Regions from separate parts of the Homo sapiens genome. Here region 1 is linked to region 2. A link means that fine-mapping ties the variant in region 2 to the expression of a gene that starts in the linked region. Tissue or cell type: whole blood. Region 2 holds a variant in brackets; the other region holds the start of a gene. Each region is shown on its reference strand, or each on the opposite one.

Evidence for each region.
Region 1: it holds the start of TTC9, and the variant in region 2 is fine-mapped to the expression of TTC9 in whole blood (TOPMed, PIP 0.98).

What each region holds. Positions count from the first base shown.
Region 1 is chr14:70,640,112-70,643,029 of GRCh38, reverse strand. TTC9 (tetratricopeptide repeat domain 9) reads right to left here and starts at 1,114. Exons shown (of 3, transcript NM_015351.2): 1 at 495-1,114. The coding sequence starts at 900. It overlaps TTC9-DT (TTC9 divergent transcript), which reads left to right and starts at 1,732. Exons shown (of 3, transcript NR_110071.1): 1 at 1,732-2,022. RefSeq lists silencers at 560-629, 650-839, 1,060-1,209 and enhancers at 1,680-1,939, 2,040-2,219.
Region 2 is chr19:44,426,072-44,428,989 of GRCh38, reverse strand. ZNF229 (zinc finger protein 229) reads left to right here. Exons shown (of 6, transcript NM_014518.4): 6 at 1-2,736. The coding sequence ends at 687. Among named protein-coding and RNA genes, the nearest start is that of ZNF229, 21 kb to the left of the region's middle. The variant T/C (reference allele first, on the strand shown) is at 1,851.

The DNA of each region.
Region 1 (2,918 bases), not on the chromosome of region 2:
GGCCAAAAAACTTGGGGAAGATCTTACCTACAGGGATGCGGTTAGTTGGGGAAAAGGCGAGGACCAATCCTGGTGCTCATGCTACCTAAGGAGAGCAGACAGGTGCGTGGCCTCCCTTGGGACCCACCCGCAGGAAAAAGCTGGGCTAGCGGTGGCTGCGGGGGCCCACCCCGGGCGCTGCTTCCGCATTTTGGACCCAGGTCCACTGGTGAGCAGTAGCAGCAGCAGCCATAGCCAGGCCAGCTGGGTCCCCTTCCAGTCATTTCTAGGTGAGATTTACGATGTATGCTAGCGAAGGGACAAGAGATGATTATGGCCTTTGAAAGGCATAATCCTGAAAGTCACACTTTTTCCAAAGCGCCTCCCTCCCGGGTTCTCCCCAGAGCAACACAGTCACAGCAGGAGAATCTGCACCGCGGGAGCGCCGCAGTGGTCCGCGGAGGGACCGGGCCGAAGAACGGGGACCGCGGCGCGGGGGGCGCGGCGCGGCTCACCTGCCAGGCTGTTGTAACAGTCGATCTCGATGGCTTCCACCGTCTTGCTCTGCTCCTCCGAGAGGCGGCCGGGCTTCAGGGCCCCAGCCGGGGAGGCCGGGCGCGAGTCCCGCTCCCGTTCCCCGGGGGGCGGCAGCAGCCCCTTCAGCTCCAGCAACGCCCGGTGGTATTTGCCTATGGCTTCACGGAATTTCTTGTCCTTGTAGCACTGCGCCCCTTGGCTTTTGAACTCGTGCGCTCGTCGGATGAGCTCGGCCGGCTCGGCCGCCGCCCCGACCTGGCCCCTCGCTGGGGCTCCTCCGCCGCCGCCCGGGACGCACAGCGGCGGCGGTGGCCGCTGCCCCTCTCCGGCCGCGGGCGGGCTCGGGTTCCCCTTGGCCCCGGCCGCCGAGCCCTTTCTCTCCATTCGGCCGCCGCCCCGGCGCCTGGTGCGCGCCGCGATCTGCCCGCCGCCGCCGCCGCCGCCGCGCCTTCCCGGGTTTAAAAGCCGCGGGCGCCGGCCCCGCGCCTCGCAGGCTTCGTGGCGGCCGTGACACCCCGCGGCGGTCTGGCGCCCCGCACTCCCATTCTCCCCGCTGCTGCCAGAGGCTGCTCCAGCCGCCGCCGCCGCCGCCTCGGACGCCGGCCCCTCCCCCGCCTCCCGGCTCCGCGCCGCCCGCTCCCGCCCTCCTCCCTCCGCAACCTGCGGGTGGCGGGGGCCGGTGCTCGCGGGCCCGGGACTAGCGCTGCGGGGGGACCGTGGCCCCGAGTGGGGTGGCGGGGATGGTCGCTGACCCGGAAGAAGCTTGGCTTGCCCGAAGGAGGGGAGGATTAATGACAAAGACGGCCCCGCTCTTTCCCATTCAATCCCGCTCTGCGAGGCGCGCCTAGTCTGAAAGGAGGTGGGGGGAGGGGGGTAGGTGTAGGGGAAGGGGAGTGTGTGTGTGTGCGTGTGTGTGTGTGTGTGTGCGTGCGTGTAGGGATGGGGGGCGGCGGCGACGAAATGCGTGCAGAAATAGATTTCTTAACTACAAGAAAAGGTGCGGCAGGGAACAAGGGGCGCAGGCGCAAGCCGTAGCTGCTAGTTCTTTGCAGTAAGGTGTTAGTATTTTTTAAGGGGGCAGGGCCTCCTTTTTGTGGATCCAGGTTGTCGCTGAGGTGTGTCTCGGTGTGTGTGGTCGCCGGGGCGTCCAGAACGCGACGGGCGGTACAGCGTGTGGGGCGCCGTATTCTGGGAGCCTGTGTATGCGTGTGCTGTGTGCGCGCAGCTGTGCAGGATGAATCACAGACATCAGAGATGGAGAACACCTGTTACTGTGGGTCATCGGCTTGGCGTGCGTCCGGTCTAGTTTCCATTTACAGGACAGTTCTGTGCCCTTCCTCAGGAGGTCCCATTCCTTCCTTCTTTTGGTCGGTTCTGAGTGTCAGCTGTCTACTGGGGATCTGCTAAGGCTAAGAGGCAAAGATAGGCAAGTCACTCCCCTGACCTCAAGAAACTCCCAGTCTACAGGCGAAGATACACCACCCACCGGTAGAGTCGCTGGACCAGGTACAGATGGTGCCTGTCATTGGGGAGGAACGAAAAGTGCTGTGCAGCCCTGAGGGGGGGAGGGAGAGGTAGCTTTTTGAGTAGTGGTAGATCAGGAGGCTTTATGGAGGAAATAGCATTTGAGGACCTTGAAGGCTGGGTAGGATTTGGCATGAAGAAGTAGAAGGAAGTGGCATAGCCGGAGTGAGGAAATCCAGCGGAAGTCCTGATGTTTGAAATCTCAGGTGTGTTTAGGGCATAGTGGTTTGATTTTATAGCCTAATGAGAAGTAGTGGGAAATGACGGGGTTGGATTATGGGGGCTTTTGGATGAAGAGTTTGGATTTGATTTTGGAGTCAATGGAGAAGCCTGACATATTTTTTAGTGCCCTCCCTTCCTTAATGTTAAGAAAAAGAAAGATTCTAGAGCACCGGTTGTCAGAGTGCTGGCCCCAGACCTGCAGTGTCAGCATCACCTGGGAAACAGTTAGAAATGCAAATCCTAGGATCCTACTCCAGACTTAAGAAATCAGAAACTCTGAGGGTGGGTCTCAGTTAACCAGTATATTGGTTCAGATATGCTGCTTTAAAACCTTCCTACTCAAAATGTAGACCTTGGGCCAATATCATCAGCATCACAGGAGAACCTATCAGAAATGCAGAATCTGAAAATCCCACACCTACTAACCCAGAAGCTGCATTTTAACGAGCATACTGGGTGATTTGTTTACCTATTAAAGTGTGAGAAACACTGCTGTAGAGACTTTGGAAAATACAGTAAAGTATAAAGAACCCCCCAGTCTACACCCAGTTGTATTCTTTGTTAATATTTTGATGTAATTCCTACCAGTTGTTTCCTAGGCATCTATATTTGTAAAAAGTGCTCTTTTAGCCAACATAAGTGGTATGGAACAATAT
Region 2 (2,918 bases):
AGGCCCTACGTGTGTGACGTGTGTGGGAAGGGTTTCATCTACAGCTCCGACCTCCTTATCCATCAGAGGGTCCACACTGGAGAGAAACCCTATAAATGTGCTGAGTGTGGCAAAGGCTTCAGTTACAGCTCAGGGCTTCTCATTCACCAGAGAGTCCACACAGGCGAGAAACCTTACAGATGCCAAGAGTGCGGAAAGGGCTTTAGGTGCACATCAAGCCTTCACAAACATCAGCGAGTCCACACGGGAAAAAAGCCCTATACGTGTGATCAGTGTGGCAAGGGATTCAGTTATGGCTCTAATCTTCGCACCCACCAGAGGTTGCACACAGGAGAGAAACCCTACACTTGTTGTGAATGTGGGAAGGGTTTCAGATATGGCTCAGGTCTCCTTAGTCATAAGAGAGTGCACACTGGCGAGAAGCCATACAGATGCCACGTGTGTGGGAAGGGCTATAGTCAGAGCTCACATCTTCAAGGTCATCAGAGGGTCCACACTGGTGAGAAACCCTATAAATGTGAGGAGTGTGGGAAGGGCTTTGGCCGCAACTCCTGTCTTCATGTTCATCAGAGAGTCCACACTGGAGAGAAGCCCTATACGTGTGGTGTGTGTGGGAAAGGCTTCAGTTATACCTCAGGTCTGCGGAACCACCAAAGAGTGCATTTAGGCGAGAACCCTTATAAGTAGATGTACATAGAGGATTCCATCTGGGACTCAGAGCTTTCTATCCATCTGAGAGCCAACACAGGAGAAAAACCATAGGAAAGTGACATGTAGGAGGGCTATAGGAGAAACTGATGATTTTACATTTTCTAGTCTGCATAGGAAGGGAACACCTGGATGTGTGATAAATAGGTTAGCACTTCAGTTACAAACTTCAGTCTTTAAGAGTCTGTTGTGCAGCGGAGTAGGCTTTAAAGAAACAGTGCAGCAGTGGTTTCAGTAATAATCCTCACTTCCATCAGAATCTGCCTGGGAGGGAGCTTTTACAATGTACAAGTGGTGAGAATGTTTCCAAGGTGCTAATTATGGACATAGATTCTTTGTGTGGGTTGATAGCTACCAATGGGACAGTGTAGAAACAAGTTTCCACCTTTCTAAAACCAGTTTGGTACATATCTTTTTAAAGATCGCTTTATAAAAACAAAAAGATAACATTAACATTTATTGAAACAAGTCACTCTGAGAAGACCAGGAACAAAGTTCTCTTGGCAGATCTGGGTGATGTGTGTGTCTCACATTTTTATCATGTTTTTATGACTGTTTTATCTTGCAGGTAAGCTTTACAGCTTTCAGAGGAGTTGTAGTACACTACAGAAATATGTCTTCTTTCCAGGTTCAAAAAGCAAAATCTGATTGGCATTGCATTGAATTATTAATTAAATAAATTTATTAATTGGCATTGCATTGAATTTATAGGTTAATTTTGAAAGAATGTGGCGTCTTTGAAATGCTGATTTTTTTTCACTTTAAAAAAATGACTTTTTTTTTACCACTGATAGTATTTCATATGGTCCCTCAGTAATATTTCTTAGAGATGGTTAAAAATAGGTTCTGAGTCATCTTAAGCATATTTCTAGGAATTTGTTTTATTGCTGTCATGAATATAATGGTTTTGCTCCAGTTCATTTCATAGTTTAACATATCAAATATTAGGTATCTTAAAAATCACAAATGCTATTTCACCCTGCAGGTTAGCAGTATTAAAATAGAATCATCAAATCCCCCATCAGTGGGGGCGGGGGGGGGGGTTGTAGAAACAGTCTGATATGGTTTGGCTCTTGTCCCCACCCAAATCTCATCTCAATTTTAATCCCCACGTGTCAGAGGAGGGCCTTGGTGGGAGATGA[T/C]TGGATCACGAGGGCAGATTTCTCCCTTGCTGTTCTCATGATAGTGAGTTCTCATGAGAGCTGATGGTTTTAAGGTGTAGCCCTTCCTCGCTGTCTCTCTCCTGTCCCCTTGTGAAGAAGGTCCTTATTTCTCTTTTGCGTTCTGCCATGACTAAGTTTTCGGAGGCCTCCCCAGCCATGTGGAACTGTGTGTGAGTTAAACCTCTTTCCTTTGCAAATTACCTAGTCTCAGGTAGTTCTTTATAGCAGTGCAAAAATGGACGTAATAAGTCTTATGTACTTATTGGTGAGAGAGAAAATCCGTGCATTGTTTTCAAAAGAATTCATTAACGTATCAATTCAATTTCTATAACCTTTGAAGTGGCAGTAAATATGTAGTAATTGATACTTGGGAGATAGTTGCCCACTTGGGCAAAAACGCATGCAGAAGGTGGAGTTTTTAAATTTAAAACATTTTTAAAATAGCAAATGTTAATATTCCAGTTTCCATTGGTAGGAAATTTTTTAGATAAGTTCAGGCATATGTATGCAATGGAAAGCCACTAGAAATCTTCAGGCACACAGATAATGACAATGCAGGTTGCTCATGAAGTATTTAGTGAACCAGGAGAGTTTTAGAACAACAATTATAGCATGACCCCATTTTGTTAGTATGTTTTTCTGTGTGTATGTTTAGAGCAACAGAGAAAAAAAGATGTGGGAGAGGACATATAACTACTTATCTCTAGTGGTGGGATTCTGAATGTATAATACATATGTTGTACTTTTATGTATTTTACTTTGTAACAAAGTATCTTTCAGTTTTATAATAACAGTAGAGCTATTTTTTATAAATTAGCCTGATGGAACAATCCCTTATGATTAAAGATTCATGTTGTAACCTCTATAACTTTTTTGGCTTTTTCTCCTGTTCACCCAACTCCCTGTACCAAAGATAAGGCATACAAATGAGTGATGTAAATATTCTCAGAGGCTACATCATTTTTGCTGGCTGGTAGGAGATGAGGCAGTCTAGATAATTAGGAGCCACGGTGTTTCCATTTTTCAGTCCTGCCTTCTTGAACTAGT